Linked DNA regions of Homo sapiens: all the other regions are reported to be linked to region 1. Evidence: microRNA targets listed by miRTarBase, many of them from high-throughput screens and not tested one by one. Region 1 holds a microRNA gene; each other region holds the end of a gene's coding sequence. Distances are from middle to middle.

Evidence for each region. The annotated mature microRNA hsa-miR-6727-3p reads UCCUGCCACCUCCUCCGCAG and lies in region 1 at 1,380-1,399, shown strand. An mRNA with a match to its seed (bases 2 to 7 or 8) in the 3' UTR can be bound and repressed. Matches are read on the target gene's strand: a 7mer-m8 pairs with bases 2 to 8, a 7mer-A1 pairs with bases 2 to 7 and ends in A, and an 8mer does both.
Region 2: the mRNA of CCDC86 is a reported target of hsa-miR-6727-3p. Seed matches in the 3' UTR shown: 7mer-m8 at 751-757.
Region 3: miRTarBase lists PLEKHO1 as a target of hsa-miR-6727-3p. The part of its 3' UTR that is shown has no 7-base or 8-base seed match.
Region 4: miRTarBase lists ADD1 as a target of hsa-miR-6727-3p. Seed matches in the 3' UTR shown: 7mer-A1 at 794-800.
Region 5: the mRNA of RERE is a reported target of hsa-miR-6727-3p. Seed matches in the 3' UTR shown: 7mer-m8 at 626-632.
Region 6: miRTarBase lists ZNF747 as a target of hsa-miR-6727-3p. The part of its 3' UTR that is shown has no 7-base or 8-base seed match.

Annotation. Positions count from the first base shown.
Region 1 is chr1:1,310,783-1,313,900 of GRCh38, reverse strand. MIR6727 (microRNA 6727) reads left to right here and starts at 1,335; the gene lies at 1,335-1,399. It overlaps PUSL1 (pseudouridine synthase like 1), which reads right to left. Exons shown (of 8, transcript NM_153339.3): 7 at 2,830-2,992; 8 at 2,224-2,571. The coding sequence ends at 2,522. It overlaps INTS11 (integrator complex subunit 11), which reads left to right. Exons shown (of 17, transcript NM_017871.6): 9 at 1-169; 10 at 309-392; 11 at 777-866; 12 at 952-1,114; 13 at 1,201-1,308; 14 at 1,400-1,461; 15 at 1,533-1,675; 16 at 1,754-1,883; 17 at 1,977-2,301. The coding sequence ends at 2,042.
Region 2 is chr11:60,849,894-60,852,893 of GRCh38, forward strand. CCDC86 (coiled-coil domain containing 86) reads left to right here. Exons shown (of 4, transcript NM_024098.4): 3 at 47-121; 4 at 313-1,188. The coding sequence ends at 432. PTGDR2 (prostaglandin D2 receptor 2) reads right to left here. Exons shown (of 2, transcript NM_004778.3): 2 at 1,040-3,000. The coding sequence ends at 2,642. It overlaps CCDC86-AS1 (CCDC86 antisense RNA 1), which reads right to left and starts at 1,188. Exons shown (of 2, transcript NR_182293.1): 1 at 873-1,188.
Region 3 is chr1:150,159,119-150,162,236 of GRCh38, reverse strand. PLEKHO1 (pleckstrin homology domain containing O1) reads right to left here. Exons shown (of 6, transcript NM_016274.6): 6 at 2,172-3,118. The coding sequence ends at 2,714. LINC02988 (long intergenic non-protein coding RNA 2988) reads right to left here and starts at 1,509. Exons shown (of 4, transcript NR_135098.1): 1 at 1,427-1,509. RefSeq lists silencers at 102-171, 760-829, 2,530-2,579 and enhancers at 1,440-1,749, 2,880-3,118.
Region 4 is chr4:2,928,281-2,931,398 of GRCh38, forward strand. ADD1 (adducin 1) reads left to right here. Exons shown (of 16, transcript NM_001354761.2): 16 at 1-1,782. The coding sequence ends at 243. It overlaps SLC75A1 (solute carrier family 75 member 1), which reads right to left. Exons shown (of 13, transcript NM_001146069.2): 10 at 3,095-3,118; 11 at 2,947-2,994; 12 at 2,781-2,870; 13 at 2,287-2,673. The coding sequence ends at 2,558. Among named protein-coding and RNA genes, the nearest start is that of SLC75A1, 5.0 kb to the right of the region's middle.
Region 5 is chr1:8,352,453-8,355,570 of GRCh38, forward strand. RERE (arginine-glutamic acid dipeptide repeats) reads right to left here. Exons shown (of 23, transcript NM_001042681.2): 22 at 2,967-3,118; 23 at 1-2,668. The coding sequence ends at 2,635. Among named protein-coding and RNA genes, the nearest start is that of SLC45A1, 36 kb to the left of the region's middle.
Region 6 is chr16:30,529,944-30,533,061 of GRCh38, reverse strand. It overlaps ZNF747 (zinc finger protein 747), which reads left to right. Exons shown (of 3, transcript NM_001305018.2): 3 at 1-2,695. The coding sequence ends at 563. It also overlaps a transcript of ZNF768 not described here. Among named protein-coding and RNA genes, the nearest start is that of ZNF747, 3.4 kb to the left of the region's middle.

The sequences.
Region 1 (3,118 bases):
GCCCATCTACTTCTCCACGGGGCTGACCGAGAAGGCCAACCACTACTACAAGCTGTTCATCCCCTGGACCAACCAGAAGATCCGCAAGACTTTCGTGCAGAGGAACATGTTTGAGTTCAAGCACATCAAGGCCTTCGACCGGGCTTTTGCTGACAACCCAGGACCGATGGTGAGGCCCGCGGCAGGGCCGGCCAGCACATCCACACCCGTCGGTCTCCTGTCTTCCGCAGGTGTCTGGGCTTGGGCCTGCAGTGGGGGTGGGGGCATCTGCTGCCCTGACCCCCCACCTGGCCCTGTGTGTCCTGTAGGTTGTGTTTGCCACGCCAGGAATGCTGCACGCTGGGCAGTCCCTGCAGATCTTCCGGAAATGGGCCGGAAACGAAAAGAACATGGTGAGGGCATGGTGAGGTGTGGGAATCTGGAAGCTGGAGGCCGACGGGTTGTCCTTCCACCCATGCTGTCTCTGAGCTCTCACTGGCTTGGCCTCGTGCTGGCCAAGGGACGTGGCTGCTGCTGCTGGGGAACGGGGGCGATGTCCGCCTGGAGCTGCTCAGTCTCTGTGACACAGCTTGTCCACCTCGGGCAGAACAGCCCCAGCCCAGCCCTGGACAGTCTTGTGCCAAAACCTGAGCCCTTTGGAGTCTGCAGCTAGGCTTGGTCGGGCGCCGCTGGCAGGTGGAAACAGCTTCCAGGGGTTCAGGCGGGGGCATCCCGGGCAAGGCCTTGAGGTGCCAAGGCTGGAGTTCCCTGGCTGTGAGCTCTGTGCCTGCCCCCAGGTCATCATGCCCGGCTACTGCGTGCAGGGCACCGTCGGCCACAAGATCCTCAGCGGGCAGCGGAAGCTCGAGATGGAGGGGCGGCAGGTGGTGAGTCTCGACCCCGCACTGGGCTGGCAGGGCCGAGGGGCACCTCCTGGTGGTAACCACTGTCCACGCCCCGTGGCCTCTGTAGCTGGAGGTCAAGATGCAGGTGGAGTACATGTCATTCAGCGCACACGCGGACGCCAAGGGCATCATGCAGCTGGTGGGCCAGGCAGAGCCGGAGAGCGTGCTGCTGGTGCATGGCGAGGCCAAGAAGATGGAGTTCCTGAAGCAGAAGATCGAGCAGGAGCTCCGTAGGCAGCCGGGCGGGCGGCGTGGGGCCCACCTCGGGTCAGCACGGGCAGCCTGGGCTGAGGCTCTCTCTTCCCCCGGGGTCCAGGGGTCAACTGCTACATGCCGGCCAATGGCGAGACGGTGACGCTGCCCACAAGCCCCAGCATCCCCGTAGGCATCTCGCTGGGGCTGCTGAAGCGGGAGATGGCGCAGGGTATGCGGGCTGGGCAGGGCAGGGCAGGGTGCTCGGGGCAGGCGGCTGGGAGCGGCCCTCACATTGATGGCTCCTGCCACCTCCTCCGCAGGGCTGCTCCCTGAGGCCAAGAAGCCTCGGCTCCTGCACGGCACCCTGATCATGAAGGACAGCGTGAGTGCCAGGACGGTCTCTGGAGGGGGGAGGGCCGCTGCTGCGCTCACTGACCTGTCCCTGCCCCACAGAACTTCCGGCTGGTGTCCTCAGAGCAAGCCCTCAAAGAGCTGGGTCTGGCTGAGCACCAGCTGCGCTTCACCTGCCGCGTGCACCTGCATGACACACGCAAGGAGCAGGAGACGGCATTGCGCGTCTACAGCCACCTCAAGAGGTGGGCGCCCGGCCCCGCCCCCCCCCCACTCCCTTGGGCCCTGGAGGCCAGGCAGGGTCTCACCGAGCCTCCCCACAGCGTCCTGAAGGACCACTGTGTGCAGCACCTCCCAGACGGCTCTGTGACTGTGGAGTCCGTCCTCCTCCAGGCCGCCGCCCCTTCTGAGGACCCAGGCACCAAGGTGCTGCTGGTCTCCTGGACCTACCAGGTAAGGGGTGACCCCCACCCCACCGCGGTCAACACAGGTATCAACATTCCTCCCTGTCCTGCACCACCCACAATGCTTTTGCCTCTGCCCTAGGACGAGGAGCTGGGGAGCTTCCTCACATCTCTGCTGAAGAAGGGCCTCCCCCAGGCCCCCAGCTGAGGCCGGCAACTCACCCAGCCGCCACCTCTGCCCTCTCCCAGCTGGACAGACCCTGGGCCTGCACTTCAGGACTGTGGGTGCCCTGGGTGAACAGACCCTGCAGGTCCCATCCCTGGGGACAGAGGCCTTGTGTCACCTGCCTGCCCAGGCAGCTGTTTGCAGCTGAAGAAACAAACTGGTCTCCAGGCTGTCTTGCCTTTATTCCTGGTTAGGGCAGGTGGTCCTAGACAGCAGTTTCCAGTAAAAGCTGAACAAAAGACTACTTGGTACTCTCTTCTTGGTGTACATGGCTGTGTCCTGCACTGTGCCCCATCCCGCCTGGGACAGAGACGGGCATCCAGGGTGCTGGGACCCGGGCAGGGAGGCTACTGTGGAGACCAGGCAGCAGTGCTGTGGGCCCCAAGCAGCTGTGACTGCCCTGGCTTGACCAGCACAGGGTTGGGCCTGGTGTGGCCTAACTTTGGCTTGAGTGTCCAGGGTCATCCGTGGCTCCCGAACTGTGGCCCCTGCAGGGTGCAGGAGGCAGCACCTGTGGACGGACCAGACCCTGCGTCAGCCTGGGGCAAGACCGGCCCAGCACCCTCCCCACCGCTGAGACCACTCCCATGACCAGGGAGTGGGCCAGCCCAGGACGGGCTACGGGCTGGCCTGAGGGACTGCAGCCCTGGGCGGGGGGCTGCTTCACCCCCAGTTGCTGCCGTCAGTGGCCCCTGGCCCCCCACCCCATGCCTCGGCCACAGTAGTCACTGGGCACATGACAGGAGCTTCTCGTGCCTGTTTTTCTTACCGAGGTTCCCGTACAGCACTGACTTGAGGAATAAGCCGTGGGCTGGGGCTACACGTGTCTGGTGCTTGCCCAGGGGATCTTGGCTCTCCAGAATCGTCTTCACCTGGGCAGGTGCCAAAGCCCCCAGCCCCACGGCCACCAGCACAGCCGTCATCCTCCGTACCTGTGACCCAGAGCCACCTGTGACCCAGAGCCGCCCGTGACCCACCAGCACAGCCGTCATCCTCCGTACCTGTGACCCAGAGCCGCCCGTGACCCACCAGCACAGCCGTCATCCTCCGTACCTGTG
Region 2 (3,000 bases), not on the chromosome of region 1:
CTGCCTCTGCTCCCCGACTCAAATCCCCTTCTCCCACATGTTCCAGGAGAAGAAACAGCGCCGGGCTGAGAACCTGAAACGCCGCCTGGAGAATGAGCGGAAGGCAGAGGTCGTCCAAGTGGTGAGTGTCTCGTTTTCCCCCTCTGCCCTTCTGCCCCACTTGGGGGTGCAAACCAGGGCCTCGACCCCTGCCTCATGTACCCCCACTCTCATGCTACGATCTCAGGCCCCTGTGGGGCGGCCTTCCTCTCCCCTGGGAATTTGGACCGAGGCTGCAGCTGCACTAATGTCCTCCCCTCATACCACCCCCAGATCCGAAACCCCGCCAAGCTCAAGCGGGCAAAGAAGAAGCAGCTGCGCTCCATTGAGAAGCGGGACACCCTGGCCCTGCTGCAGAAGCAGCCGCCCCAGCAGCCGGCAGCCAAGATCTGAGCTCAGGACGGCCCGAGGCCTTCCATGGCCAACAACCATGTCAGACACAGCACCTCAGGCCGCTGCTCAGATGCCTCTGCTGGAGCTGGCACTCCAAACCCATGGCTCCAGAACAGGGACCCCCACCCCGACCGGGGCTCCTCGGCCTTTGAAGGCTTCCAGGCAGGTCTGTGTGGGACAGAAGCCCAGAGGGGGCCTGGGACCTGGCAGAGATGGGGGCGGGAAGAGATTCAGCTCCCATCCCTCCTTCCTCTCCTTCTCCAAGTGCCTTCAAACCAAGAACTGTACATTCTTCTGGTTCCTCAGTGAGCTGGTGACTGGCAGGTGACTCCCTCAGCAGTGTATGCCCTTTCTCAGCATCCTAGGTCCATCCCAGGCCTGGAGGCTGACAGTTGGGAATCCAGCTTCCCCCACACCTTCCCAAAGGCTGCTCTGAGCACCTCCACACCCCACTGCCTCTGTCCCCAGCAGACTGAATCCGGTTCCTCTCCACTTTTCAATACTGAAAGATTAAAATGGGGAGGTTGCAGGGAGCAGAGCTTTTCCCTAGCACCCACTTTCCCAAACCAGTCTCTGCAGAAGCCCCAGAGAATCTAACTCATGCCTGTCCAGTCTACAGCAAAAATATTTATTGAGTGCCTGTTGCATACAGGCACAATCCTAGGCACCGGCAAATACAGACAATAGACCAAAGTCCCTGCCCTCGAGGAGCTTTCATTCTGATGGAGAGAAAACATAATAAACAAGCAAAATGCACCACGTGTCCAATGGGGGAAGTGCTATGAGTAAAGGGGGAAGGGATGGGAGGGAGCAGGGGCGAGGTGTCAACACAGGGTGGCTCTGCAGCTAGCTGGGCACCTCACTGTTCCCTTTGCTCAGCACCTGCTGTGGGCCAGGCCTTCAGTGACCCTGGCCTTTGGTGGCAGAAAAAACACAGGACCAAGATCTCAAGAGTTTCTCATCTGCTTCTTCCACTGACATTTCATCCACCAAGCAAAATTCATTGACACCAACTTTTCGGTCCCTGGGCTGCAGAGCTCAAACACAGCAGTCTCTGACCCCAAGTCCACGGCAGGTGGAGGAATGAGACGGGGTGCAGTGGAAGTGATAGGTCAGAGGTGCAAGTTACCCCTCCCATCCGCAAAAGGGAAATGGTAGCTGCCCAGCCCCATGTGGCCTGGAGGCGGGGCTGCACAGATCTTGGGATTACCAGTGCCCAGAGGGATCCCACAGAACACCAGGCCGACAGGGAGGCTGGTCCGCTTAGCTAAGAAATGACGTGTGCTGTAGTCTTAGAGTTGCTGTGCCCATTCAACTTCTAACGACCGAAGACTTTTAGTCATTTCCCCCATTGGATTTGATTAGCCCCAGGTTTCCCGAGTGCTTGACCACGCCATCCCCTGCTGCTTCTGCCTTGGAAGCACTTTGGGCAGTGCTGGGTCACAAGGTAGCATCTTAAGTCCCTCGAGTAGGTCAGAGAATGTCCTCGCTCACCAGAGAGTCATTGAGCATGTGATGCCTAGGGTTAGAGTGCAGACCCTGTGGTCGTTAGCCCTGAAACTGGGCAAGTCACTTAACCTCCCTGAGCCAGAATGTGCTCAGCTGTAAAGACTGGCTAATAGAAGCTGCCCCTTAAGATTGTGGGATGAAGCGTCTAGCGCAGTAAGCATTGGCTAAATGAAGAGGGCAGGCTGGAACAGTGCTTCTCAAACCTTTCCTCTCTCTTCTCCAAAAATACATGGATGGTTTAACATAAAACTCCTTCCCCCCTCCCCCATCATCTGGTAAAACTGAACTCCGGGGAGACGCACCCCGTGTGCCCTTCCGACTCCACTGCCCTAGAGTGGGAAGTCTATTATGAGTTTCACTTTGTGTTACTCCAGGCCTCGCCTGTGAACCTGCCGCACTGGCTTCTCGGCCTGGGAGCTTGTTAAGTGCAGACTCTCAGTACCCGGCCCCGGCCTCCTGGATCAGACTGCACTTAACAAGACCCCTAGGTGATTCACAGGCACATCAAGGTTTGAGAAGCACTGCTTTAACTCACTGTTTCTGAAAAAGATTCAGAGTCTCCCGGGGCGCTTTAAAATGCAGGTGCCTGGGTCCCGCCCCTCGGACTTTGATCACTGCGGCAGGAGTCCGGATATCGAATTGAACCGCGGCACCCTGGTGATACTTTCGCGTGTGAGTGCCGCCCTACGTGGGCCGGGTTCTAACTCGAGGTGCTGCTCAGCGCCCGGTTCAGGGGGCCCGTCTGCGGGGACGCTGCGCAGCTGCCCAGCAGCCAGCCGAGGAGACGCGCGGGGCCCCGCGGTTCCTCCGGGCGGCTGCAGAGAGCTAAAGGGGAGGCCGAGCGGGCGGTGGAGGAGGTGCGGCGGCGGCGGCTGCTTCCCGCGCCACCCAGCTCGCTGTCGTCCACCAGCACGCTCTCCAGCACCGTGCGCAGCGAGCGCCGCAGCTTGCGCAGCATGTCGGGGCAGGTGAGCACGTAGAGCACCGGGTTGGCCACGCTGTTGAAGAAGGCCAGGCTGGTGACGAAGGGCAGCCCGCGCCACACGAGCGGCCGCAGCC
Region 3 (3,118 bases), 150 Mb from region 1:
GGTCCAGCACAGCCTGTGGCCTGGATCTAGCTAAGTGACAGTGACCCCACCCCGGTGGCCTCATTCACACAGTGCTCCTTCCAACTGAGCTAGCGGCTCACTGCCCAGAGTCAAACCAGTAACAGTAGCTGCAGTGGTCACTTTCTGACTGACAGGCATTTTCCATATTGTCCTCACCCATCCAATAGCTCTGCAGCTTGCAGATGAAAAAAACTGATACTCGGAAAGCATGTGCCTTGCCCAGAGCCTCATAATCAAGAAGTAACAGAGTTAGAATTTGAATCCAGATCCATCTGGTTTCAAAGCTGGGCTCATTTCACCACCCTAGGGCCTGGATGTTCCAGTAACTGCTGGAGAACTGGAAGCTGTTGGTTTTAGAGCCTGAAGCCCAGGAGCACAGTGCCCAGCTCCTCTCTTACTGTTGTGAGGTCCCCGATCTTTCTTTTCTGCTTCTTTCACCTGTCATTCTCCTCTCTAGTGTCTCCCTCCATCTTCTGGCTCCCCTGGGAGCCACAGATAATTGACATGTTGGGATACACATGTCATTTGTGCTTTTGTCTTTTTTCATTATGTGGGAGCAACAAGGAAGAAAAAAAGAAAAGGAAAAATGCTGGTAAAATACAAAGATAGAGACTTGTAAAAAGAAAGCATAATTCTACCTTAGACTTCAATACTTGTGACAATGGATGGCTCTGCTGACCATGCTTAGGGCTGTGGAGAGTGCAGCTATTTGAAGGACAGGAAGTCTGGAAGCCTGGGTTCTCACCTCATACCCCAAGAGACCATAGAATGACATGAAGGTGGCACTCTTGCACACTTTCCCTCACTCAACTGGGATACACATTCTTCAAGGAAGAGGCTAGGTAACTACAGTCTAGAGCTGGGGACAATCTCCATGACAGAGTGGCAAGGGACTAGAGAGAGCAAGAATTCCTCTGCCCTAGGGATGGTTTAACAGCAGTGATAAGGTCCAGAGAAGAGCTGTGAAGGAAAGAGATGATTTCTGGAAAGGGGACAGAGGCCCCCATTTTGCTTACATGGGTTGTAGGAGTGACGTTAGAGCAGAAGAATGCGGACTGAAGAATCTGTTTCTCCCACAGGTTTTTCCCCCGCTTCCTCCTATCCCATCTTCCTATAACATCGGGGCAGCGTCATGGCCAGGTCTACATGTAACTTGGCCCCGTTTCCTCCCCCTCCTCCCCTTACCTCTAGTGAAGCCCCGCTGCTCTTGGAGGATCAAGCAGCTAGCAAGGCACACTTCAATGTGGCTTTTAACCCCTCATTTACTTGATTCATGAGACTCTGTCCCCTTCTTTCCCAAAATCAAATTATTCCCTTCATAGCTCTTCTGGGGACCTCACCGTTACTAAACCTCATCTCACACACTTCCAAGGAAAGAGTGAACAGTGAGTTGTGTGGGACCTACCACAGACAAGAATGTTGGGAAGCCTGGCAACTTCAGAGGTGGCTGGGAGGGTGGTGGCGTGGGCATCCAGATGCTTTTCTAAAGTGGGGACTTGCTTAGTGATGGAAGAGGTTTGAGGAAGGAGAGGGGGAGGCTACAGGAAACCTCAGCATGGCTGAAAGAGGAACTTGGACAGATGTTTGGTTTTCCCCTTCATCCTACCCAGCTTGCATCACACACCAGTTTCATTCTTAGTTCAGTTCTTCTGTGGGGTCTGTCTCTAGTTCCCCTGTGCTAGGGCCCTGAATCAAATAATGAAACTAGTCTCATCCACTCAAGGTTGGATTTTTTTTTTTTTTTTGAGACGGAGTTTCGCTCTTGTTGCCCAGGCTGGAGTGCAATGGCACAATCTTGGCTTGCTGCAACCTCTGCCTCCCAGGTTCAAGTGATTCTCCTGCCTCAGCCTCCCGCATAGCTGGGATTACAGGCGCCCACCACCATGCCTGGCTAATTTTTTGTATTTTCGGTAGAGACTGGGTTTCATCATGTCGGTCAGGCTGGTCTCAAACTTCTGACCTCAGGTGATCCACCCGCCTTGGCCTCCCAAAGTGCTGGGATTACAGGCGTGAGCCACTGCGCCCGACAAGGGTGGATCTTTGAGTCAAGGTTGGGAAGGGTGTGGAAGATGAAGGGAAGAAACACCTCATGTAAGAAAATCCAGGCAGCTCGATCTCAATGAGAGACTGCTAGGAATGAGAAGCCAGTGTCTGGCTGGGGAGATTTTAATTCCACAAATCCTCCTCAGGGCTGGGATAAATTTCACTTCCATGTGCACGGACAGGTGACACTGGCCTCCACATCCCTACAACTAGAGTTGGGCAGCTGAAACTTCACCCTCAAACTGAAGGCCTGGGGTGGGACATAACAGAAAACATCCTCATCCCCCTCCCGCTCTAAGCTTAGAAGCCCACTGTATCCTTGGGAGCAGCAGTGGACTCCCTGTGCCGTCTTGGGGGCGGGCGGTGTGTGGAGTGGTCAGACTGTGTCTTTACCGTGCCTTCTCTCTCTCTGGCTGGGTAAAAACTTCCTGCTACTGCTGCGGGGTCACTTCCTCAAACCTGAGGGGCATACGAGGGGCATATGGAAAGTAGGTGGGGCAATAAGGGTTGTAGTGGGGTCAGGCATCAGCAAGAGCAATGAGTTCATTTTTGTTTTCTTTTTTTGATTGAGGTAAATAAAAAAGCTTTATCCAGCAACACGGAGATAAGAGTCTGTCCAACCCGACAAGTTCCAGACCCCACCCTGCCCTCACATCAGGCTCTTCCGGTACTGACTGTGCGGGGTGGTCTGTCTGAGGTGGGAGTCCGGGGTCTGCAGGTCCATCTGTCTGTACAGGTCTCTCAGCTCCCTGACCTCCTGCAGCACCCTCTTTGCCTGGCTCCAATTCGATGATGCCTCTCCCAGCAGCCGTTCCGTCTCCAGCAGCAGCTGCTCTGACTCAGAATCCGGCGGAGACCGAGGGGGGTCCTTGGCCTTTCGCTTCCCATCTCCCAGTCCCTGAACCTCTGCCAGAAGCTCCTGAGTCTCCTCCAGTTTCCTTGCTACCAGGTCCTGGATCCGGGACAGCTGCCCCGGGTTGGGGAGGGCAGGGGTTGGGGGTTCCTCAGCCCGCAGCTGGAGGGTGCGGGCAGAGGCAGCATCCCGCTGAGATAG
Region 4 (3,118 bases), not on the chromosome of region 1:
TTAGAGAAGGAGGAGGAAGCCCATAGACCCCCAAGCCCCACTGAGGCCCCTACTGAGGCCAGCCCCGAGCCAGCCCCAGACCCAGCCCCGGTGGCTGAAGAGGCTGCCCCCTCAGCTGTCGAGGAGGGGGCCGCCGCGGACCCTGGCAGCGATGGGTCTCCAGGCAAGTCCCCGTCCAAAAAGAAGAAGAAGTTCCGTACCCCGTCCTTTCTGAAGAAGAGCAAGAAGAAGAGTGACTCCTGAAAGCCCTGCGCTAACACTGTCCTGTCCGGAGCGACCCTGGCTCTGCCAGCGTCCCCGGCCACGTCTGTGCTCTGTCCTTGTGTAATGGAATGCAAAAAAGCCAAGCCCTCCGCCTAGAGGTCCCCTCACGTGACCAGCCCCGTGTAGCCCCGGGCTGACCCAGTGTGTGCTCAGCAGCCCCACCCCACCCTGCCCCTTGTCCTCTCAGAGCCTCAGCTTCTGGGGGAGACATGCTCTCCCCACAGGGGGGAGGCACTAAGTCATGGTCCTGGCTGGAAGGTACTGAAGGCTTCTGCAGCTTTGGCTGCACGTCACCCTCCTGAGCCTCACCTTTCCTGCCGTCCCTCCTGTTGTGAAATCACCACATTCTGTCTCTGCTTGGCTTCCCCTCCACCCTAAAGTCTCAGGTGACGGACTCAGACTCCTGGCTTCATGTGGCATTCTCTCTGCTCAGTGATCTCACTTAAATCTATATACAAAGCCTTGGTCCCGTGAAAACACTCGTGTGCCCACCAGCGGCCTTGAAGAGGCAGGTCTGGGCCAGATGCTGGGCAGGAAACCCCAGCGGCAGATGGGCCTGTGTGCACCCAACGTGATGCTATGCATGTCTGACCGACGATCCCTCGACCAGAATCAGATTCAGGAGCTCAGTTTCTTTTTCACTTGGGTCTCTGGATTCCTGTCATAGGGAAGGTATATCAGGAGGGGAAGAGGCCTTTCTAGAATTTTCTTTGAGCAGGTTTACAATTTAGCTTACATTTTTCGACTGTGAACGTGAATAGGCTGCTTTTTGCTTTCTTCTTTCCAGACCCCACAGTAGAGCACTTTTCACTTATTTGGGGGAGGCTTCAGGGGACTGTTCTCACCTTAACTCAGCCAGAAAGATGCCCTAGTTGTGATCAAAGGTAACTCGAGGTGGAGGGTAGCCCTGGGGCCCCTCGACATCACCGTCATTGATGGAGCCTGAACCGTGTGCTCCTCGGCAGATGCTGTTGTTGTTACTTCCCTCCAAGAGGCTGGAAAAGGGCTCAGAGCTGCTGAGCAGGAACCGGAGGGTGACCCATTTCAGGAGGTGCCGGTACCAGCCTGACTAGGTACAGGCAAGCTTGTGTGGGCCCAACAGGCCCTTGGTAGAGCTGGTGCCAGATGTGGGCTCAGATCCTGGGCATGATGGGCCGAGCCACCTCGGATCCCACTGATTGGCCAGCCGAGCGAGAACCAGGCTGCTGCATGGCACTGACCGCCGCTTCCAGCTTCCTCTGAGCCGCAGGGCCTGCTACGCGGGCAAGCGTGCTGCCTCTCTTCTGTGTCGTTTTGTTGCCAAGGCAGAATGAAAAGTCCTTAACCGTGGACTCTTCCTTTATCCCCTCCTTTACCCCACATATGCAATGACTTTTAATTTTCACTTTTGTAGTTTAATCCTTTGTATTACAACATGAAATATAGTTGCATATATGGACACCGACTTGGGAGGACAGGTCCTGAATGTCCTTTCTCCAGTGTAACATGTTTTACTCACAAATAAAATTCTTTCAGCAAGTTCCTTGTCTAAATCTGGGAAGCAGTTTTATATTTTAATTTCTTTGTTCCCATGTTTGTCTCGTGCTGAAAAGAGACCTCCTAATGTTCATGTCTTGATAAAATGTCACCTGCAGCCACGCGTGCGGCAGGACGTGCCACCCAGCACTCCTGGTGTCCCTCTCCACGGGAACTCAGGGTGTCCAGGGAACTGCTGGCCTGTCCTTGTCCCCATGGTCCCAGTCTCACTGTCACTGTGTGCTCATGTTTGATGGGGAGGGCTCTGTGCTGGGGACATCCTGCCAGGGTGCGGGGCACACTGCCAGATACCACCTGGCCAGGGCTGACCCCAGCCTTGGAGGAGCCTGCCTGAGTGAGTCCCCAGGCTGCCACTGTGCAGAGGGGGAAACTGAGGGTCTCAAAGAGCCTTGGACCCTTCCGGTCAGTGGAGCCATTCATTCAGCTCCAGCTGCCTTTCCTGGTGTGGGTAGAAGCACGGCTATATATGGCGAAAGGCACTTGGTATAAAACAAACAGGTGCTTTATTTCATCATCAGAAACCTGGTGCATAGTTTAAAAAACAAACAGAAGCCCTGACAGCCTTGGAGTGCTGCAGCTCGGAGTCACTGAAGGAGTAAGTAAGTCTGGAGGAGCTGCCTGAGCTTCCTGCTTAGGGGCCGGCCCCCACCCACAGGGTCTCCCTGGACTGGCGGGGGGTGGGGGTCAGGCAGTGGGCAGGGGCCTGACCTAGGCTCCCACTCTGCCTGGTGCCCACAGCCTGGGCACAGTGGCTCAGCTACTCAGCCTTGAGCGTCTGTGCCGGGTAACTCAGCTTCTGCAGGAGGAAGAAGGGGAGCAAAAAGAGCCCGGACCACGTGGTGAAGCAGGCCTGGGCCCCGGCCAGCCAGTACACTGCGGAGAGACGGTGGCGTCACCCAGTCCCCGAGGGGGCTGGCACTTGGGAGGCGAGGGCAGGTGCTTGGCCCCCAGCCTGCCCCAGCACCATCCCGCGCCCTCACCTGAAGCGGCCACCAGGGGCCCCGCGGCCCTGGCCAGAGCACCTAGGCTGCGCAGTGTACCCATGACCGTGCCCTTCTGCCCTGGTGAGCCTGTGGGAAGAGGCACAGTCAGGCACCACTGCCCTTCTCCCGCTCAGGTGGCTTCGGCCGAGGGAAGGGGGCTCACCATAGCCAGCGACCACGGAGGACAGGCAGGGCACCACAACGGCGGCGGCTGGTGGGAGACATCGAGGAGGTGCCCGTCAGCCCAGGGGAGGGTGCATCACCCAGCCCCTGCTGCCCATCGGATCCCCTGCCAGGGCAGGGCCACTCACCAAAGGAGTAGAGCAGCAGCCCCA
Region 5 (3,118 bases), 7.0 Mb from region 1:
TACAAAATACTCAAATGGAGAGAACACAGAAGTCACGATTTCTGGGTGTCTACTGTTTACACTGTGTTATCTCATGGCAAACTACTCATATATACATTTAGCTTCAAGATATATAGAAACGTAGCAAATCCGAGTGTGCACGCTGCCTCTGCCGCAGTGGAGTGAAGCTCAACCTCGAGGACACCGAACAAGATACGGACACACACAGAGGAGCCAAACCAAACCCCGAACAAAGGGAGGAAAATCCGAAGGAAACCGAGTGGTTGGGCTTCAAAGACACCATGAAGGTCAGGGCCTCCTAAACAAACTGTAGTTTATCTGGTGAGGGTTTCGGGTCGAGGGTTTTTTAGATGGAAGAATCTCAGCGCTTCGCCTTGGGATATGGGGAGAAAAGCAAAGCTAACAAGAATGCCTTCGGACGGCTTTCAAGCACAGACCTCAGAGGACTCGACTCTTCTTTGGAAAAATGGATGCCAAAGGAGGAGATAAAGAAGGTTTAACTGAATGGTAGATGTTGTGTTCTACCAAAAAGAAAGAAAAACCAGAAGCCGAGAAGGTGGGGGCCTGGATGCAGGAGTCTGGGAGCCCAGCAGGAAGAGGCCTCGCTCAGAGCCACGGGAACAAGCCTGCCATGAGGGCCTGTCCCCACCCCAGAAGGAAACGAATGCCTTCAAGCCAATGTGGCCTGAAGTCCCACGACAAAAGGTTCATGTCAGCTTTGCCTCCCTGTGAACAAACTAAAGTTAAGGCAGAAATGGAATGAGAGAAAAATGAAAGAAAAAAAACTAGAAACATTTTCAACAGACAAAACAAGCCTATCCCAACTGAAACCAAACACGGTTTTTAAGAGAAACTGGAAATGTCGCTATTTGACGCCAGAACCTGAATTTGAGCCAGTAGCTGCTGGTTTCTAGATCAAACTATCAGCATCTCTTCCTGCTCCCTCTGCGGCCTGGGTCCTGGATGGACTTTGTGTCCGCCGACCCAGTGTGGTCTCTGTCCTACAATTCTTGGGATGGGACCAGCACAATGGCAGAAGAGACCTCCAGTGTCTGAGAGAAAAGGATCGGAAGAGGCCACGTCCTGGCAGGAAGCAGGGCCGACAGAGGGCAGACACCCCAGAACACCCGCCCTCAGCCTGGGAGAAAGTGCGTTACGGCTGCAGCCTGGAAACGAGGGCAGGCTCTCTCCAGGACGGTTCCGCTCAGAAGGGCCTGGCCTCCTGAGAAGCAGCCCCCACACAGCATGCTTTCTGAATGCACTGTGGGTGGGACTCCAGTTCCCACTTCCAGGATGAAGAGTGGGACTCAAATGGTTTACCAGTGCAATGTGGGGTCACCATGCAGACCTGCCCCTAGGGTAAAATACAGGCTGCCCCCAACACCTGTCTTAACTCCAGGATCTCCCTTGCTCAAAAGTGGCCTCAATCTGTGGCAAGAAAGATGGGGCCGTCCTCACCACAAGATCCAAGTGACAATGCGCATGAGAAGGCAGCCTTCTAACACATCCCTTTGGCAGGCATATGTCCTGGGTCACTTGTGTGCTGAGTTATTTGTATGGAATCATTTTCTTAGATGATGAAATTTTCGGAGTATTAAAAAAGACATTCATCCAGAACAATCAAGTGTGTGTACACAGAAATCTAGAAGGAAATCTACAATGGACACAGGCCCATGCGCTTTCCATCCCGTGGAAACAGAACAGTGACACTGGAGAACAGAAAGTGAACATTCACCTCCTGCACTCCCTGTGCAAAATGGAAGAGGTCTGATGGAGCAGATGTCTGTGCTGCTGGCAGAGCACAGGCTAGGAGCAGACACAAGTGAAACGCCAGGCAGAAAACAGAGTCTGTAACATCGTCCCTGCAAACCCTGGATGCTCGCTGCTGTGACCAGGCCTCGGTCCAAGCCTCTGTCCATGTGGAACGCCCCTTTGCTCCCTTTAATTAAAGGGATAATTATATATAACTTTTTATTAAAAAATCAACTCTGTATTCTGTCAATAGTTGGTAGGAATTCACAATTAGTGACATGGCTGGAAAAAATAGATCACAATAGTAGTTTATGGAAGAAAAAAAGGCTGTTCTAAAATTATTTATTTACAGACGTAAAAAGCCATGCTGCAGAACTTTCTCCAATTATGAAGATTTCCTACAATGTATTAAAATAAAAGATTTTTTTTTTTAAAAATTATAGCTCTTGGATTCCAAATTCCTATGCCCCCGATCTGCAAGCCTCGTGGGCTCTGGAGCACTCGTGGCGGAGTGTGTCAGTGTGTCTGCACGCACAGTGAAGGGTGTGAACTGGATTCTAGCACCTACTGAGAAATCAAGGAAAAGAAAACTAAAGCCAAACCCCAAGATTGCAGGGAAGCTTTCTGGATGTTCAGTCCAGTCCAGGACTCACTAAGTTTCTGGGGGACTGTCATGCAGGGAGATCCAAACCAGTCTCAGGAAATCCTCTCGACAAACGAACACTACTATGTGGATACATTTTTAGTTGTGGGTTTTTAAATATATAAAGAAATCTTTAGAAGATATTCTTTTTGCTTTTGCAGCTCCTATTTTATGTAAAAAGTCCTGTTTCTCCCCCCAAGAACTGGGGTTTCCACAGCCAGCGTTAACAAATAAATAACTTATAACTGCTTGTCACCTTCTTTCTTCAGTCGACTGGAAAGACAAAACAGGAAAGCGTATTTAGTCTCAGGCCTAGGCAGGCAGTCACGCAGGCTGGAGGCAACCCCAAAGACAACAGCCAGGCAATCCAACCCCAAGCCCGCAGCCTCCTGTGTAGCTGACCTACCCTCCCAACACCTCCCTTCCTCTGTTTCTCCCATCACCATGGTTCCACAATGTCCCCTCCAGGGCCCAGCAGGCAGAGGGGGAGGAGCCTGGCCCTGGGCACACGGGGAGGTTGGGAGCCTGGGCTCAGATAACCCCTCCACTCCCTCCCAGCACCCCACCTCACCTGTAATAATCTTCCTGACTTGGTAGGTGGCCACCATGCATGTGGGGGTGTCCATGCAGCCACTGCTGCTCCATGGCCAGTCTCTGCAGCTCGGCCGACTGGGCATGCATGGCCTGCAGCTGGTGGGCTGCTGACATGGGGGGTGGGATGGC
Region 6 (3,118 bases), not on the chromosome of region 1:
TGAAGGCTCCCCAAGCCCCCTTTGCCGGGTTGGAGCAGCTGTCCAAGGCCCGGCGCCGGAGTCGCCCCCGCTTTTTTGCCCACCCCCCTGTCCCCCGAGCTGACCAGCGTCACGGCTGCTACGTGTGCGGGAAGAGCTTCGCCTGGCGCTCCACACTGGTGGAGCACATTTACAGCCACAGGGGCGAGAAGCCCTTCCACTGCGCAGACTGCGGCAAGGGCTTCGGCCACGCTTCCTCCCTGAGCAAACACCGGGCCATCCATCGTGGGGAGCGGCCCCACCGCTGTCCCGAGTGTGGTCGGGCCTTCATGCGCCGCACGGCGCTGACTTCTCACCTGCGCGTTCACACTGGCGAGAAGCCCTACCGCTGCCCGCAGTGTGGCCGCTGCTTCGGCCTGAAGACCGGCATGGCCAAGCACCAATGGGTCCATCGGCCCGGGGGCGAGGGGCGTAGGGGCCGGCGCCCTGGGGGGCTGTCTGTGACCCTGACTCCTGTCCGCGGGGACCTGGACCCGCCTGTGGGCTTCCAGCTGTATCCAGAGATATTCCAGGAATGTGGGTGACGGCCTAAAAAGTGACCATCTAGACATTGTGGGCGGCCCGAGATGGGCTCAGGGGCCCGAACCTCTGCAGCGGCCTGCAGGGAGGTCCCAGAATCCACCGCAAGAGCTGGCCTGGGGTGCGGACAGTCTGATCTTGGGCTCTCAGCAGCCTCTTCTGCCAGCACCTTGCTCCCCGCTGCCCTGGGCTCTCCAAGGCCCCCTTTGCTGAGGCAGGGCTGAGGTGAGAACCCCCCAGACCTCCATACAGGGAAGCAAAAGCTGTTTCTCCTCCCAGAGATGCTAAGAGGATTGAGGTAGAGAAGAACCTTGTTTTCTCTGTTGTCTTTTTCTTTTTACTTTTTTAATTTTTTGAGACGGAGTTTTGCTCTTGTTGCCCAGGCTGGAGTGCAATGGTGCGATCTCGACTCACTGCAACTTCCACCTCCTGGAGTCAAGCGATTCTCCTGCCTCAGCCACCCAAGTAGCTGGAATTACAGGCACCTGCCACTATGCCCGGCTAACTTTTTGTATTTTTAGTAGAGATGGGGTTTCACCATGTTGGCTAGGCTGGTCTCGAACTCCTGCCCTCAGGTGATCCACCCACCTCTGCCTCCCAAAGTGCTGGGATTACAGGCGTGAGCCACCTCACCTGGCCTTTTCTTTTTTATTCTTTGACCTTCCCACAAGACAATACCCATTGTCTGTTTTTTTTGTTTATTTATTTACTTATTAAGACAGCATCTTGCTCCTCACCCAGGCTGGAATGCAGTGGTGTGAACTGGGCTCACTGCAGCCTAGACCTGCTGGGCTCAAGGAATCCTCCTGCCCCAGCCTCTCAGATGGCTGTGACTACAGGTGGGCAACACTATGCCTGGCTAATTTTTAAATTTTTTTGCAGAGATGGGGTTCCCACTATGTTGATCAGGCTGGTCTCAAACTCCTCGGTTCAAGCAATTCGCCCACCTTGGCCTCCCAAAGTGCTGGGATTACAGGGGAGCCACTGCACTGGCCTTCATTGTCTTTTTGCTGCACAACCTAAAAAACCAGTGACCCTGTATTGGATCTCGCCTGCAGTTGCTGTATTGATTTGGGCCCAGGCAGTGTTTTTAAGTGATAAGAATTAGTGATGAAGATCTAAAGGGATATTTTGCACCAAAATCCAGGTTTCTGGCATCTCTTGAAAAATCCAAAGATTTCGCAAGTTCACCTAGGCTCTCAGAAAGTCGCAGTTGTTGGGAGTTGGGCCGGAGCCAGAACTCCCAACTTACTGTGGTCCGGCCACTCATCCCATCAGCTCCTGACCAAGCATGAGTAGCCATTCATCATGGCTTGCTTTTAGTGTTTTTGGTGTTTATCTTAAAGTACAGCAAAGAAGAAAGGGAAGTATTTCTTGAACCCATGTCTGTGTCAAAACAGTCCTTGCATCTTTCCTGTCTTTAGGTACGCACCATCTTTGCTGTCTTTAAGTATGTGCCATCATGGGCAGAGGGGGCTAGGCCAGGAACACCTGGTGTTAGATTTGTAGCCAGTGGCAACCGTACCCATCTGTATCCCCAAGTTCTACACGGAATCCCTCCAGCACTTCACGACTCCATTATCCAGCTACCACTAATTCCTTTGTGGGCAGAGTCCAGCCACGGGCAGCCCCTGCCCTGCCTCTGGTCAGGACAACACCTGCCCAAGGAGAGCAAGGGCCTGTGACCTCTGCTGGCCTGTGCGCCCTCACCTGTCACCCAGCTCAGCCCTGTGTCTGGCCTACCCAGGGAGGAAGGAACCAGATTTATCAGCCTGAAAGGAGGTAGAAGTTTTGGAGAAAAGACACTGTTCGGGTGTCAAGTAATGAACTGACTTTATTCGAACCTCATCTCCAATCCAATCCCACCGTGGTCTCTCTCTCCCTCAGCTTTTCTGGGGCGGGTTGACTCGTGTGTCACTTTATCACAGGGGCACATGGGGTGAGAAGAGGAACCTTGGCAGTAGGAGATACCTTTGTACCAGGTTTTAATTTCCAGTGTACATCTCAGTCCCCTCCCCTAACCCTCAACACAGCCTGGGGAAAGCCCAGCTTGCAACACCAGTTCTCAGCCCAGACTGACAGCCAGATAGATCTTGGCCCTGAGTTTGCCAATTAAAGATGCCGTGATTATTACCTAGAGGTCTCTGAGAGCTTTGAAGTTTGTAAAGTTTACTTATGGCCCAGAAACCAGGCTCCAACTCCTCTGCTTCCTGCCCTCATGACCCAACCTTCCAGCATTTCGTCAATTTTTTTTAGTGTCGTGAAACCCTTAAGCCTTAGCCCCACCCCATTCTCAGCTCCTCAGTTGGTGGCACAGATATTTCCACCTAGAGGTAGGGCCAGGCTAAGTATCTTTTAAAAATGTAGCTATTCTCGGCCGGGCGTGGTGGCTCACACCTGTAATCCCAGCATTTTGGGAGGCTGAGGCGGGCGGATCGCAAGGTCAGGAGACCGAGACCATCCTGGCTAACATGGTGAAACCCCGTCTCTACTAAGGATACATTTTAAAAAAATTAGCCTGACATGGTGGCACGTGCCTATAGTCCCAGCTACTCAGGAG